Linked DNA regions of Homo sapiens: region 2 is linked to region 1. The links come from fine-mapping of genetic effects on gene expression. Tissue or cell type: fetal neocortex. Region 1 holds a variant in brackets; the other region holds the start of a gene. All regions are shown on one strand. Distances are from middle to middle.

What was found. PIP is the estimated chance that this variant, and not a neighbour inherited with it, causes the effect.
Region 2: it holds the start of MCPH1-AS1, and the variant in region 1 is fine-mapped to the expression of MCPH1-AS1 in fetal neocortex (Walker 2019, PIP 0.95).

The regions. Positions count from the first base shown.
Region 1 is chr8:6,633,446-6,641,445 of GRCh38, reverse strand. The region is part of intron 13 of MCPH1 (microcephalin 1); the gene reads right to left. All of the region lies in intron 1 of MCPH1-AS1 (MCPH1 antisense RNA 1), which reads left to right. Among named protein-coding and RNA genes, the nearest start is that of MIR8055, 15 kb to the right of the region's middle. The variant C/T (reference allele first, on the strand shown) is at 3,651.
Region 2 is chr8:6,704,732-6,712,863 of GRCh38, reverse strand. MCPH1-AS1 (MCPH1 antisense RNA 1) reads left to right here and starts at 4,655. Exons shown (of 5, transcript NR_125386.1): 1 at 4,655-4,723. It overlaps AGPAT5 (1-acylglycerol-3-phosphate O-acyltransferase 5), which reads right to left and starts at 4,222. Exons shown (of 8, transcript NM_018361.5): 1 at 3,977-4,222. The coding sequence starts at 4,195. RefSeq lists silencers at 3,829-4,068, 4,129-4,468.

The DNA.
Region 1 (8,000 bases):
CAAACTTTTGCCATGTATAAGTTTCAATTTCTTATGTATTCAAATTATATCAACACTTTGTCTTATTGCATCTGGCTTTTGAGTCATAGGTAGGTGGAAGCCTTTTCCGATACTCAGGGTTTAAAGTCATTCAGCCACATTTGTATTTTCTTCCAGGTTGTAAAAACTCTATGGATTCAATTTTTACACTTAGTTTTCTGACTAGGTGTCAGTTTTGAAAAATCATAAAAAAATGCAGAAAAAATGATGCTCTTTCCAAATTCATCTAGAAATTCAATGTAATCCAAAAATTTCAAACTTTTCAAAAAGAAAACGACATGTTTATTCTAAAGTTTATAGGAAAGAAAAAAATGCATAGGAAGATGATTTTTAAAAAGAGAAATGATGAGAAAAAATTTGACATACCAGATATCAAAACAGTCTGTACAATTATAGCAGTAAAATAGAGGTCAGCACAGAATAGACAAACAGATCAATGGACGAGAATAACCAGAAACACACCCATACCATGTGGGAATGTAAGAGATGACTCACAGGGGGCAATATAGGTCAGTGTCAATAAATTAGTTATTAAAAACAACATGGTCCCCTCACATTATACAGTAAGTGAAATGCACATGCATTAAAGGTCTAAATATTTTTTAAAACTATAAATAGGAGAATATGAGATTATTTTTAAAGCTCAGAGGGTGAGGAAGGCCTTTCTAAGCAAAACCACAAGGGTAGGTGCCATGGAGGAAAAGAGGTGTTTAATTTTGTAAAAAATAATAGTTAAAAATTAAAAACTTGGTAATACTTAAGACACCATAAGCACAGCTAAAGAGACAGAGTTTTATAACACAACAAAAGTTTAATGTCCATATTATGTAAACATTGCTGTAAAACCATGTGAAAAATATAAATAACCCAATTTCAAAACAGTTAAGGGATCAGGACAGGTAATTCACGAATGATAAATCTCCTATCTAAGATATTCAGACTCATTCATAATTTAGTAATCAGGCAATTAGAAATTAATGAGATCTATTTTTTTAACTAATCGGATCACCCAATATTGAAAATATGGGTTATGTCCAGTACTGGACATGGGAATTTATAGGACATAGGAAATAGGACTTTATGTACCGTTAGTAATAGTGTAAATTGCTGCAGCCTTGTGTATCAGAATTTAAGTACACATATCCTAGGGCACAGTAATTTCACTGCTTGGAATGTATTTTACAGAAATCTTCATGAGCCTGGGCTCGGACTAGAATAATTCCAGCTCAAGAAAATCTCTTAAAATTGAATTCAGATTGTTCAGTTAGAAAACACACACACACACGCACACACACACACACGCGCGCGCACACACACACACACACACACACACACACACACACACACGAGTTTAAAATAGCAGAAGCCAGCCGTATTGCAGGGTTCATGCCTGTAGTCCCGCCTACTTGGGAGGCTAAGGTGGGAGGACTGCTTGAGCCCAAGAGTTTGAGGCCAGCCTGGGCAACATAGTGACATCTTGTTTCTAAAATAAATAAGTAAATACAATAGCAAAACAATGAAAATAACAGAAAGCACATAAATTAATTACAGTACCTCCCAATGGTTAAAAAGAATGAAGTAGCTGTATATGTGTTAAGCTGGAAGGATCTTCTAGGCATAGGGTTAAATAAAAGCTCCTGAAAAAGCATGTCATTCTCCAATATATATAAAAACAAATCCCTAAACAATATCTGTGTTTATATACATTTATTTCTATGTAAATATGTTTTTTTTTTTTTTTAAAGAGACAGGATCTTGATCCATTGCCCAGACTGGAGTGCAGTGGTATGATCATGGCTTACTGCAGCCTGGAATTCCTGTCCTCGAGTGATCCTCCCACCTTGACGTCCTGAGTAGCTAGGACTACAGGCATGTGCCATGACACCAGGCTACTTTTAAAATTTTTTTTGTAGGGACACGGTCTTTCTATGTTGCCAAGGCTGGTCTCAAACTCCCGGCATCAAGCAGTCCACTCACCTTGGCTTCCCAAAGTGTTAGATTATACATGTGAGTCACTGGACCTGACCATAATATGTTTACATTCATAAATATGTTTTTAAAAGAAATCTAGAAGATACACTTCTATCTTTATTGTAGTTAAGGAAGGGTTGTAAGACTGGAGGACCCTGTGTACTTGTCTACTGTTTGAGTTCTTTGACTATGAAATCAAATATCACTCCATCCACCCATCTACCCATCTACCCATGCACCCGTCTACCCATCCATCCAACCATCCACCCATCCACCCTTCCACGCATGTATCCTTCCATCCACGTATTTATCGTGGTGGGGATAAAGGCTGCCAGAAGTATCGATCTTTAAACAGAGACAAGATGGAACAGAAGCCTACATGTAACCTCACAACAAAGTCTGTACCTTACACCTCTCATGGCCTGCTCTAGGACATGCTGCCTGAGGAATTACACTGGACTTCTGAGCAGTGGCGTTGAGGTGCGCATGGGGCTGTGACTGAGTGTGCGGGCAGCACTCTGGGAGGTCTGAAGCGCATCTGACCACTGAACAAGGGCCGACAGCTCCAGGGTCATGTCCAGGGAGCCCCTCACAGCCCCACGTTCCTAACTGTAAACACACACAGGAAAAATGATTTCTATCCAAGTTTATTTGGCATCTGAACATAGCCACATCCCCAAATTCCAATGTCACTTCATAGGAATAATCCTCAAACATCCCATAAAATGTGGCCGTAGGACAGATGTTAGAGTAATGCCAGTCCTGGCCGGTGGAGACAGAGATGAATAGGAAGCTGAACTGCCCTTGAGCAGCTCCGTGAAATTTAAATTAAAAAAAAAATTTTTTTTTTTTTTTTTAAATGTAAGCAACAGTATTTAGCAGGTCTTGGCAGGCATTTACGCACAAGCTAAAGTTTACTAGCCATGGCTCTGTGTGGTCTTATGGTTAGGATACAGAATCAACATGCTACCAAAATTAATTTTTTATAGTATGGTGGGCAAGTCACTTTATTTAACTAAAACTGCGATTGCCAGCATCCAAGTGTGGTTAATGGTACAATGTACAGAAGTTCAAGAGCACACGGGACCCATGTGAGCTTCATCTTTGCTTATCAAAATAAGTAAGCATGTTAGGGCTAGGAGATCTAGCCACATCTCCACTCTGGTAAGGAATTGCCCAGCTCCCTCACTGTGGGACGGTGGTCACCCAGCCTCTGCGGCTTCATGGCTTAAGGCAGCCCTTAGCAGTAGAGCCCAGCAGGTTACAAATATTCCTAGAGTCGTTTCTCATAATGAGCCCAGAGCTGCCTGCTGTGTGATTTTCATCTGCTCATATCACATGTGTCCTCTTTCACACAGCAGTCCTGTAGGCACTGCTTCTGCAGACTGAATAAACCACTGCTCCTTCCGTGCTTCTCCCGGGTCCTGGCTTCTAGATGCCTCATTCTGGAAGCTCAGAACACAAGACTAGGTGCCACCTTCGAGTCTTCTTTCTCTAATATGCCACATCCAATGTATCAGCGAGTGCACCTGGCTCTGAAATGTATATTTAAAATATGACAACTTCACAACACCTCCATCGATACGTCCCTGGTCCTAACCCCCATCACTAATCACCTGAACCACTGCAAAGGTCCGAGA[C/T]TGCTTTCTCTGCTTCCATTAAAAAAACATGTGTCAGCACTTTGAGAGGCCGAGTTAGGAGGATCCGTTGAGCCCAGGAGTTCAAAACCAGCCTGGGCAACATTGGGAGACTCTGTATCCATTAAAACAAAAATAAACACAAACAGAGTAAACAAACATATACCGCAGCCTAATCCTCCCACTTAAAATCGTTCTGTGACTTCCATTTATCCTTAGAACAGAACCCAAACTTCTTGCTGTTGTCTGTTAAGGTGTCAGTGGTCTGGAATGGTCCTGTCTGAAGCTGCCTGCTTCTCCAGCTTCATTTCCTATTGCTTTGTCTTCTCTCCCTTCATTTCAGCCACGCTAAACTTACCGCTTCTCCTGACCTCTCAGCCCTTACCATTCCTGGAAGGGCCAGTCCAATAGACCTACAAGAGTCCATCCTTCTCTTCATCATCTGGGCCTCAGCTCAAATGCCACTCACCTGCAAGGGGCCTACCTCACTCCTCCTCTCTATACTCACCCTGTTTTCTTCATTGCATTTACCACCAGAAGGATTTTTAAAGAAATTGTTTGCTGCCTGTCTTCTCTCTTAAATGTTAAGTCCCACAAGGGCAAAGGCTGTATATTCCTGTCAGTTGCTGTACCTGCAGTGCCTAGGATATGCTCGGCATATGACGAGTGTGTAGGAAATATCTACTGGGTAAATGAATGAATGACCTGATACCATGTGTTGTTTGAAGAAAGTAGCCCAGTCTAATAATACAGCAGTTCTCAACATATTCTTTCTGCTCTGATATTTGACTGGAGACATTCACATCGCTGATACTTCTCTAGGACATCCTAAGAATGTGTCACAGACAAGAAAGTCTGCCGTTTATGTGTGACTCCTACCACACCAACTTCTGTTTCCCATCCAGGAAATGTGTAAAAGGATATTACAGGTGGTGTTTCCCTTATCCAAAATGCTGGAGACCAGAAATGTTTTGAATTCCAGATTTTTTTTGGGGGGTGGTGGGTGGCATTTTTGGAATGGACAATGAGAGATCTTGAAGATAGGACCAGAGTCTAAAACCAAAATTCATTTATGTTTCATCTGCATCTTATACACATAGCCTAGAGGTAATTTTATACAGTATTTTAAATAGTTCTGTGCATAGACTGGTGTGATTGCCAGGTGCGACAGCATGACTGTAGTCCCAGCTACAACGGAGGCTGAGGTGGGAAGATCGCTTGAGGCCAGGAGTTAGAGGCTGCAATGAGCTATGATCGCAGCACTGTACACCAGCCTGGGCAACAGAGCCAAACTCTGTTTCAAAAAATAAACAAACAAATTTTGTGCATGAAACAAAGTCTGTGTACATGGAACCATCAGAAAGCAGAGGTATCACTATCTCAGCCCTCACCCCCATGTGGACAATCAGTGGTTGTGTGGCATCACCCTCATTCCTGACTGTGACTTTTTTTTTTTTTTTTTTGAGACAGTCTCTCTGTCACACAGGCTGGAGTGCAGTGGTGAAATCTTGGCTCACTGCAATCTCTACCTCCCAGGCTCAAGCGATTCCCCTGCCTCAGCCTCCCAAGTAGCTGGGACTACATGCATGTGCCATCACGCCCGGCTAATTTTTGTAATTTTTAGTAGAGATGGGGTTTTGCCATGTTGGCCAGGCTGGTGTTGAACTCCTGGCCTCAAGTGATCTGCCCGCCTTGGCCTCCCAAAGTGCTGGGATTACAGGCGTGAGCCACCGTGCCTGCCCGTGACTCTGAATTTATATGCTACTACCAAGCAGTCATTTCCTTACACTTATTCACACATAAGTACTTCACAGTAAAAAATAAGACATGCCATTAACACAGTGAAGACTTACGTGCTCAGGGGAGCTAAGCAGCCAGTGGCATCAGCAGAGACCGCAATCAGCTGCTGAACAACAGCAGCAACAACAAACAACAGCAGGCCTCTGCTCTCCCAACCATGCTGTGCTTTGATTCAAAGCTTACGGGACACGGCATTTTACATTTTAGGTGAGAAGGAACATAAGAAGCAGTTACAGGCCCAGGAAGTGGGTCCTCTGGGGACGAGGAGGCATTCTGCTGGGGGGCTTTTTAATGGTATCTGCACCACTAACAATGGTCTTAGAACCGACAGCTCCTTTCTGTTGGTTCAGTGTACACAAAGTTTGTTTCATGTACAAAATATTTACTTAGTTTTTTGGGTTTTTTTGAGACAGGGCCTCGCTGTTTCCCAGGCTGGTGTGCAGTGGCATGATCACGGCTCACTGCAGCCTCTAACTCCTGGGCTCAGGCAAGACTCTTACCTCAGCCTCCCACACAGCTGGGACTATAGTCACGTGTCACCATGCCCGGCTAATTTTTTTTCTTTCTTTTTTGTCTTAGGATTCTTTCTTTGATTTTATAAGCTGACATGATTGCTTGTTCTGTTGTGAATGCACGCTGCTCTGGGCCTCAGTTAACCCATCACACCTGAGCTCCACGCTGTCCACGGGTGCTTTTTCTGCAGTGTTAACGTCATCTTCATGGTCGGTATCATCACGATCACCTTGATTCAGAACCATTCTGGCTATTTCCCCAACAGTCAATGAAATGAACAACCGGAGCCTCATTATCAATGTTAAAAATGACATTAATGTGTACTTCTTCCCGCTGACTGATGAACTCTGAAGGTATATTTTTTGGAGGTCAGACATCCTTTTCTTCTCACTTGACAAGCTGAATTCTTCTAAACCACCACCTGGTTCATCATCATCACTGAACACAGTCGTAGGCCAGAGGTCACGCCAGGCACGCACATCTGTGTCTTTAGTCACTGTGTTGCAAGCGTTGGCAACAGCATGTATGGCATCCTTCATGCTCAGCTCCTGAAAATCTTCTACACCTACACCTCCGTTCACTGCTGCGAGCGTGCAATTCAAGACAGTGTTTTTATATTTACTTTTCATTGATCTAAAGATACCCTGGTTACAGGCTCAACTAATGAAGTCACGTTTGGGGGAAAGTACACAGCATCAATATTATCTTTGATGAGAATTTCAGCTGGAGGATGAGCAGAACAGTAGTCAAGGCATAAGAAAATCTTGCTGTCATCATCCGGTCCAACTTTTCTGCAGCGAGCACAAGAGGCCTGTACGAAGTGTTTGTAAAACCGATCAGAAAAGATGTCCCTGGTGATCTATGCCTTTTTGTTAGCATAATAATGGACTGGTAAGAAATTTACTCTTTGAAAACAGCACGGACAAAAGCTTTTGCCCATGAGAGCAGGTTTACACTTATGCGTGCCTGCTGCATTTGCACAGCACTGCACAGTCATTCTGTCCTTGGCATCCTTAATTCCTGTAGGGGCTGTCCCGTCAGCTGTAGTCAGCATCTTTCTGGGGCAGTAGCACCCAAATGGTCATGTCTCATCAGCAATACAGACTTGTTCTGGCATCAGATTTTCATTAGCGATAATCTTGGCAAACTCGTCAATGAGTTTCGACGCTGCCTTGTGATCTGCAGATGCTTTAAAACTTGAATTCCATGTCATTTCTTAAATTTCTGCAACCAGCCTGTTGAATATTCACAGTTCCCTTCAATTTTCAGTTCATCAGGATAGATCTTCGCTTGTTTCATGATCAGCCTACCACTGAGTGGCACGGGTTCAGTGTGATGCCTTCAGATCTAGTTTTTCAATACACTATTCACATCTTCATTTTTAGCTTTACGTAGAGTTTTTCTATTTTTCATTAACTTCTGCTCATCACATTCAGCATAGAACTTCAAAAGCGTATCCTTCTGTTTCTTCAGGTCATGTATGGTGGTCATCCCAACACCATACTCTTCTGTAAGACGCTTCACACTTATACTGCTGTTCAGTTCCTCCAACAAGTTGACTGTTTGTGCTATTGATAAACATAAATTATTCCTCTTTTTCTGATCACTGTTACACATAGGGGGATCTGCAGGCCTTTTCGACATTTTCAGTAATATTTTTACATGACACTGCAGAGAATAAGCAAAAAACCACAGTGAGTAATGCATGGAGTTCTCGGCCCCACGTGAGGTATCGTGGGGAATCTGCGTTGGGTGCGTCCAGCCTGCACACGTGCCATTTTATTACACATTGTGGGCGTGCTTGTGTGGGGGAATTTGGGTGTGCATGGAAAAGTTATACTATAGTTGAAGGGGGCTGGGTGGGTCTTTTTTTTCCCTTGGGGACGCTAAATCAACTGTGTCGTGCACCTGTGCTTTGACTATGCCCTGTCACATGAGGTCAGGTGTGGAATTTTCCACTTGTGTTGACAGATTGGCACTCAAAAAGTTTAAGATATCGGAGCATTTCAGATTAAAATTAGGAATGTTCAACCTGTATTA
Region 2 (8,132 bases), 71 kb before region 1:
GACATCCTATTAACATTTATCAGCTTCACAGAACATGCTAAAAAGATTTGTCATTATTTATCATAACGATTACAGTTATTGTTTATGCAGCTATCTCAACATTTAGGATATATCTAGATTCCTAGGATAGAATTCTAGGCTATAAACTAACATAAATCTAGTTTCACGTTAACTCACGATGATAGAATTTAAGGTAACTTCATTCCTTTTTCATGAGTCCTACCCAATCCTCTGTCAGTACTCCAACTTTCCTTTTAATTTCCCATAAGTTTTCCTTAAACTCCAGCTCAAGGATATATATACGGCCTCTTACTCTGAGTCTCTAAGCATTCCACATTCAAGTTACTTCCTATCCTATAGATAGGGCTTTTAAGTGGCAAACAAACCAAACACCAGTATATTCACCACATCATACATAATTAATTGTCTTAGAAGTTATATCACCTTTAATTTATCAGGATTTCAGTTATTTCCATATATATATATATATAATCACAAGATGGTAATTTCAGAATCAGATAAGAATTAAAAGAATACCGAAATATGAATAAGTTGGTTATTATACAGAATGCAGATTTGTTCCGAAAATAAAACAGTTAATCAAATGTTCTACTTAAGGGATATGTGAAGGTAAATCTGTAAATAAGAAACTAAAAGATTATGGGAAAGTAAGTAAACTTATTACAGAAAACCAGGTTCTCTGTTAAAGAAAGCAGAGACCAAAATGCTTTAATACGTAAATACCTAAAGAAATAAGGCAAGTTAAACTACGAAATAACTACAAAATACTGAATAGGCAGAACTATGGAGTTCATTGTTGTGGGGGAATGAAGGGCAGCCCCTCAAAAAATGTGTCCACATCCTAAGCCCTGGAACCTGTGAATGTTTTCTTATTTGGAAAAAGGCTCTTTGCAGTTATAATTAAGGATCTTGAGATGAAGAGATCATCCCGGAATATCCAGGTGGGCTCTAAACCCAATGACAAGCATCCTTCTAAGAGAAAGGGAGAGTGAGATGTGAGACAGAAGAGGTGGCAGCAAGGACTGTAAGGCAGAGGTTAAAGTGATGGGGCCCCAAGCCAAGGAATGCCACCAGTCACCAGAAGTTGAAACCCACAAGAACGGATTCCCCCTAGGGCCTCCAGAGGGAGTAAAATTGAGCCTACACCTTGATTTCAAAGTGCTGGCCTCCAGAATCACGAGAACTTAAGTTCTATTATTTTAAGCCGCTTAGTTTGAGGTGATCTGTTTTGGCAGCACAGGAAAGTAACACAGGTACTTGAATCAATGCCTCTCAACACAGTAGAGAGACTTAACTGGATTTTCAATAGTCTCAAATTACGTGAAATATAAAAAAGCTTATAAAATTCTTATTACTTATTCTAAAGAAATAAATGGTGAAGAAAGTACCCATTTGAGTTTCAGTACCAATGAGAGATTCTGGAAGGACCTAAAAGGATAAACGAGTTATAAGGAACAATTTTAGCAGCACTGACTGAAATATTTCTCTATCTCAGAGATACATATGAAAATAAAGTAGTGAAATTGGGGAAGAAAAAGGTATTTACCCAGAATCCAAGAAAAATCCAACTAAATTTGTTGGAAGCAGGTTTACCTGCCAAGCACAGATCATAAATCTCATGGACCTACTACTACTTCTCTTCAGCTTAAAAATTCTATGTAAAAGAAAATATTCTTCTGCAAGAACTACTGTGAACCACTTATTTTTTAAACCTAGAGTTGAAAGGTGTAAAAATGTCATTTAAAAAAAATTTTATTTTAAAATGCCTCTTTAATATATATAAATTAATAAACCTTTTATTTAAAAACTTATAACCTCTTAAATTACTAAAACTCCCTTCAGAAATGAGTCAACAATACTTTATACAGAACAAGAGAATCATCACTAGCCTTGCAAACGAAAGCTGATAAAAACAATTCAAGAAAAAAAGAGTGTCCTAACAAAACAAGAAAAGCAAGCTAAAAATTTTAATCAAAACATCTCAGTGACAAAGTTAATGGTACAAAGTCACAGGTAAAAAATAAGGTGACAGAACATCACTATAAATCTTTTTCCTTTGGGTCTTATGTTTGAAGATAGCTATTTATTCCTCTATTGATTTAATCTTAACAGAAACAATAAAAAATATTGAAAGGTAGCTTTGTGTACACAGGAAACCCAGATTGCAGAAAAAGACCCTAATAAATTCAAAATACCCTGCTCTGTTACTAAACAGAAAATAATTATTTGTCCCCTCCATACAATAAAAATAAAAATGCAGGAACAAGAAACTCTTGGTTTTAAATTTTTATTAAATGTTCATAACTTGCATTTGATGATCAGTGGGCAATCAGTTCGTTCTACGACTCCTAAAGAACTTCATCAAGGAACACACATTAAACAAAATTTTGAATTATACTTAAGGGTCCTCAGGCATCCTTTCATAAATGCATGAAAATTAGTGCTGGATGCCACTTCCTTTGATTTGAACAGACGGTGGGGGGAATGATTAGATTAAATGTTTTCAAAATCACTTGCTGGGAAATCAAGAAGTAAATCGGATCTCTGAACATCAGGTAAGGTATGCAATTTCAGAAACACTGCTAGGTTTTACAGCCATTTAAAAAAATAAGAACTTGCCAAACCAAAAAATCCTTCAATGGTGTATTCTGCATCATATTGTGTCCTCTTTGAACAAAAATAACATAACCCGCCACAGATAGAATTATTTTTTTAAGAGGTGAATGACTTTGTGTTCTGAGCTTATATCCCATCCCAGGCCAGTTGTCACATGATGTGGAAGTAAAAACTTAATCATGATAAAAATCATACATTTAGACAAACTTGGTGGAGTTACCATATAAAGGGAAAAAATTAGCCTGAATTATTGAAATTTTTAAATGAGGCCCATTTTAAACGTCAACTACCAGGAAACCATGACCTGGAACAGTATCTTTTTTTCTTTCCAAGGAGACACTTACAGACACTGGTTTAAATGGAGGCCCTGGCCTCTCCTAGTTCCTTCCCCCCAAACAACTTCCAACTGGGGCCATCAAGGGTCGATCAGCAGTGCAACTGCAAACTAAATATAGTACCTGACTGACCACAGGGTAAAAACAGCTGCTGTAGGTGGAAAAAAAAAAAGTTAAAAAGACAAAATGATACCGTCCCATTTCCCCATGCCACCCTAACCCTACCAAGAAAAGTAAAAGAGGACTAGGTGGACATTAGGAATAACCAAGAATAAAGCTGTTCTTTCAAACTGAGAAATAAAAGAAAAATTCACCTTTTTTTTTTTTTTATAACACTTCAAATACCTACTGTTAAAGAGGGCCTTCCACTTTTATGGTTTGTTTCTCAAGTTTAATCTACGAATCCAATCTCTACAGAGAAACAGTAACAGAAAGAAAGTAATCAGACAACAGATCACCCACACATTCAAGCCCAGTTAAAGTTGGCAAGAAATGTATCTAGTTAGGCTTCTACGGTTAACAAATGTATTCATTTCTTCGCCCAGCTTTCACTTGTCCAGGGGAAAGAACACAAGACCGAATTGTACTTCTGTTTCAAGAGGTCACTGTAAAAGCGCACTTCGGAGTGTAGACGTCTCCGATCTGTTCCAACATGACCACCTCTTTGGACCAAAGGCCAGAAACTGCTAAACGCGTGCCCTATTATTTAAAACGTGCATCTGCACCCACTTTGCTAAGCAGCATCAGACCCAGGCGAGGGGCGGGGAAAGGGGCGGCGGGTCCCACTCGTAGCCTCAGGACGACGCAGCCACAGCTTCCTAGAGAGCGATCTCGGCAGAACGGCAGGAAGCATGCGGAGAGGAAGGCGGGGAGGCGGCACGTGCTCTCCGTGCTGGGTCCGCCGGGCCGGCCGGGTGACCCTCGCCAGCTGTGGGGGAGCGGAGAGGTCCGCGCCCCCGGGAGCTCGGGTGGACGCCGAGACCCGGGAGCGGGAGGCGGCTCACCTGGACCCCGGTGTAATTCTCGAAGAAGAAGAGCACCATGCTCTGGTAGACGCAGTAGAGCCGGTCGTCCAGCGCTTGGTAGAAGCGGGCGGGCAGGAAGGCGGAGAGCAGCCGCCAGACCCCCCAGGCCAACACGTAGGTGGGCGCCGTGCCCAGGAGCACGACGCTGGGCAGCAGGTAGCGCATGGAGTACGTGTGGAGCACCAGGGACAGCAGCATCTTCTCAGCTCGGCGGCAGCGAGCTCCGCCTGCGCTCCCCGCCCGCCTCCCGGGCCTCAGTCGCGGCCAGCAGGCGGCCAATCACCGCCCGGGCCCGGGCCGCCGCGCCCGCCACCCGCTCCCAGCCTCCGCCCCCAGCCGCATGGGCCGCGCCGCCGCCCGGGGCCGGGTAGGCGAGTGCGGGGCTGCGTGCGCCGCTCCCGGCGGCAAAGCAAGGGAACCCGCGGCCCTCCCGGATCGATGGCTCAGGGATGCTCACACCCCATGACCCTCACCCATCGCCACATCCCCCTGCCGGGGCAGGGGGCTCCGCGGCAACAACGCGCCTTCTGATTGGTCGCCCGTTGCCATAGTTCCACCTCGGCGGCAATAACACGTCTCTTGATTGGTTGGTTTGGGCCGACAGTTGCAGTACAGCTACCTGCTGGGGCGCGGGCAACCCGGCTCCGGCCACTGCGCATGCTCCCCAGCTGGGCCGGCTGCGGACGCGGGAAGGGAGGTGGTGGCGACTGACGGAACTGGGTGAAGGTGGGTGCTGGCCGGAGGAGGGTCCGGGTGCCTCTTGTTCTGCTCCCTCGGGCCGGACGTGCGCGCGGTCAGGTTTAAGGGTCGCTGGAGCTGCCTGGAACGCGCACCTGCTGCTCACAAGCCCCTGGGCGCCGGGATGCACACAATTAGAGCAGTGAGAAAGTGGGTGTTAACGTTATCGGAGGTCTAATTCTTGCAGGCACCTGGGCCCAGGTTGTAGGCAGCTCGGCCCAGGTCGCGGGGCAGCTCGAGTGTCCCCATCTGCTCACTGCCAGTCCTTTGCAAGGGGACGCCGCCTCCTCAGCCTCCGCTCTGAGTGCGCAGCAGCCCCTCCTGCCCGTCTCTCGCTACCAGGGTGTTTCAGAATTAGGGTCCGTGTTTTTCCCCATCACAGTAATGATGATAATTACATGTTTATGCATAGCTGAAGAACAATCCCACAAGGATATTTCCATACTGTTTATTAGACCTTTTCAGAATTCACTCTTGCTTCATTTCCTCAGAGTCTGTTGGACTTGTTTCTGATTTTTTTTTAATAAGGAGCCTCGTTTTTTTCTGTAGTAATTAAAGTAGTTGCGTGCACATGTGTAATCCATAAAAAGCATACTTTTGTAGCCTTCACTAAAAGCTACGAAGGGTGGATAACTGTTTTATTGATGTTAAAGCAGATCCACAGGACTTTTGGATCTTTCTCCTCCCCTTTGGCTGTGGTAAAAATGGTTTAATATGTAACCCTTTTCAAGGATAGTTGTACTTTAAAAGAATGCCGAATGCTTTACCATATATATATATATATATATATATATATATATATATATATTCCCGCCCCCTCCCCACCACCACCATAATGGGAGCCTGTGCTACCTTTAGGCAGGACGGTATTTCAGTGGGAAGTTCTAATCAGGGCCAGGATGGTAGCTACTTTCTTTATACATGATTAACATCAAATAACAACATCATTGGTAGATGATGACCTTTGGGGACAAAGCCAGGTGAATGGAGATCTCTCAAGTAACAAGTATTTGAAGGCCAGCAGGAAGCATTACACAGTAAAAGGAGCTTCTCTCTTTCTGTGGCTGTCATTGTCCTGTACTGTAAGAAGCACTAGGTTTAGTACTGGTGGAAAAAAGTCACAGGTGTGGACAGTGTGCACAACTAATGCTCCTTATGCTTTCTTTAACTGAGACCAGACATCTCTACACTAGAACAGTGTGCGAAAAGATAAAGCAGGTTCTGTGTTCACGTTAGGATTGCTGTGTATAAAGTCAGTAAATATGTGTTTATGTGTAAATTTGTTGTGAATCACCCCAGATTACTGTTAGTCACGAAGTTGTAAACTTTTGTGCAATGTTTGCCATGAAAACACAGAACTTAACTTTCTCTTGTTCCCTCTTTATCTCCAAACCCAGCTCCTGACTATCAGTTATTGTCTGTCCTGCTCCCGCTCCTCTCTTCCTGCGAACAGTCACAGATCCACCCTCTCTTTCTGCCACTACCCGGCCCTGTTTTTCTGTTTTTTTTTTTTTCCCTTTTTCCGTGCAAACCTCTTAGTTGATAATCAGCCCACACCCTCTGCCTCCTTACCTTGTACTTTTGTTGAGCCCTTGCAGTCTGATGACCTTTTCCTCCCCTTTACTGGAATGGTGCTTCTTTCAGAGCACAGCTGATTTCCTCCTTTGCATACCCTGCTGGGCACCAGTGGAACAGTGAAAGGTGAATTCTGTCTATGCCTTCCTTGTACAACATTTAACAAGGAGTTACCTGTGGGATGAAAAGGGGACATTCTTGGTTCTCTGGGAGCATATATCAAGGCAATCTAATTTAGTCTGGAGACAAGGAAGACTTCTCAGTGAAATGGTATTTCAGGTGAAGCTTGAGGGACTTAGTGGGCTTTCCATGGGAGAATGGCACATTTGAACGCCTGAAGCTGAGAAATCACCATATTCTCATGCATAGCACTGGAGTGGGCCACAGTGTTCTTTTTAAAATTTGTTGAGATGCCCCTTGAAAGAATGCTGTGTATTCCCATCACACATTCTTAAACTGATATTTAAATGTTTTTCTCAGCTGGGCATGGTGGCCTATACCTGTAATTCCAGCACTTCAGGAGGCCAAGGAGGAAGGATCACTTAAGCGCTTTGTAGAGTGAGGCCTCCATCTCTACAAATATATTTTTTTAATTAGCTGGGTGTGATTGTGCATGCCTGTAGCCCCAGCTACTCAGGAGGCTGAGTTGGGAGGATTGCTTGAGCCCAGGAGTTCAAAGCTGCTATGAGCCATGATCGCGTCACTGCAATCCAGCCTGGGCAAAAGAGAAAGAGTCCATCTCAAAGAAAAAAAAAGGTGGGGAGAGGGGGGCTTTTAATGATAAATTTAAAAAGGCTTTTAATTATAAATTTAAGTAGTTATGAAGTTCTGATGAGTTATGAATGATGTTTTGAAAATAAAGTGATTACAGAAAATTTTTAAATGTATGCAGTGAGTTATAAATATTATAGTGACTTAATATCCACCCCATCATTCATTTCAAAAATACTTAAGCCTTTGACCAGTTGAAAATTTTGCATTGATTATTTTTCTCCCTGAAAATATTTTTATTTCACTTCTACCACAGGATTCTATCATAATTGAATATGCTCTATCCTTCAAAGTTTTTTACTGATCAGACTGTATCATTAGGGTCCTAAGAAGCAAATTTTCTTCTGGATTGAACTGTTACTATTATTAGCAATACACAGTTTAATCAATGTGTTTCACAAAATCTGATAAGGAATTGTAGGCAAAAAAAAAAAAAAGTTACAAGAAATGCATCTCTTAAATAAGTTATCTCTGTTGGTGTCCTAAGGTTTATTACACCTTTCTACCTCAGCAGGGCAGCACAATGTAGTAAGATTTAGGATGTGCCAGGGGGGAGAGGAGCCATTATGAAATGCCAGGTGGGCCTGGACTGCAGGAGTCCTCAGACAGATCACTTTTAGAAGAGTTGGGATCTGAAAACTGAATCCCTTGAAACTCCTCATGACCACGTGTCCATATTCTCAGGGATACGCATGCCTCCATTTGAAGATTGTTTTTACAGAAATAATTGGGGTAAGGAAAGGAGACAAGGATGCTAGGGATTGAGTCTGGAAAGATAGGCAAGAACCAGATGACAGCAGGGTCTTGGGGGACACATAAGGATTTTAGAATTTATCCCAAAGGACAGGGAAGCTACTGAGATTTTAAGGAGAGGAGTGACATGCTTATATTTGATCTTTTTAAAAGTTGTTCAGGCATTGTGGAGAGTATATTTTAAACAGTTTGGAGACTATAGCTAGACTCCCAGCTAGAAAGGATGATGGTAGCTTAGCCTTTGGTGGTGACCATGTATGGAGAGAAAAACGAATCCCTCATGTACAGTGTTCTTGGA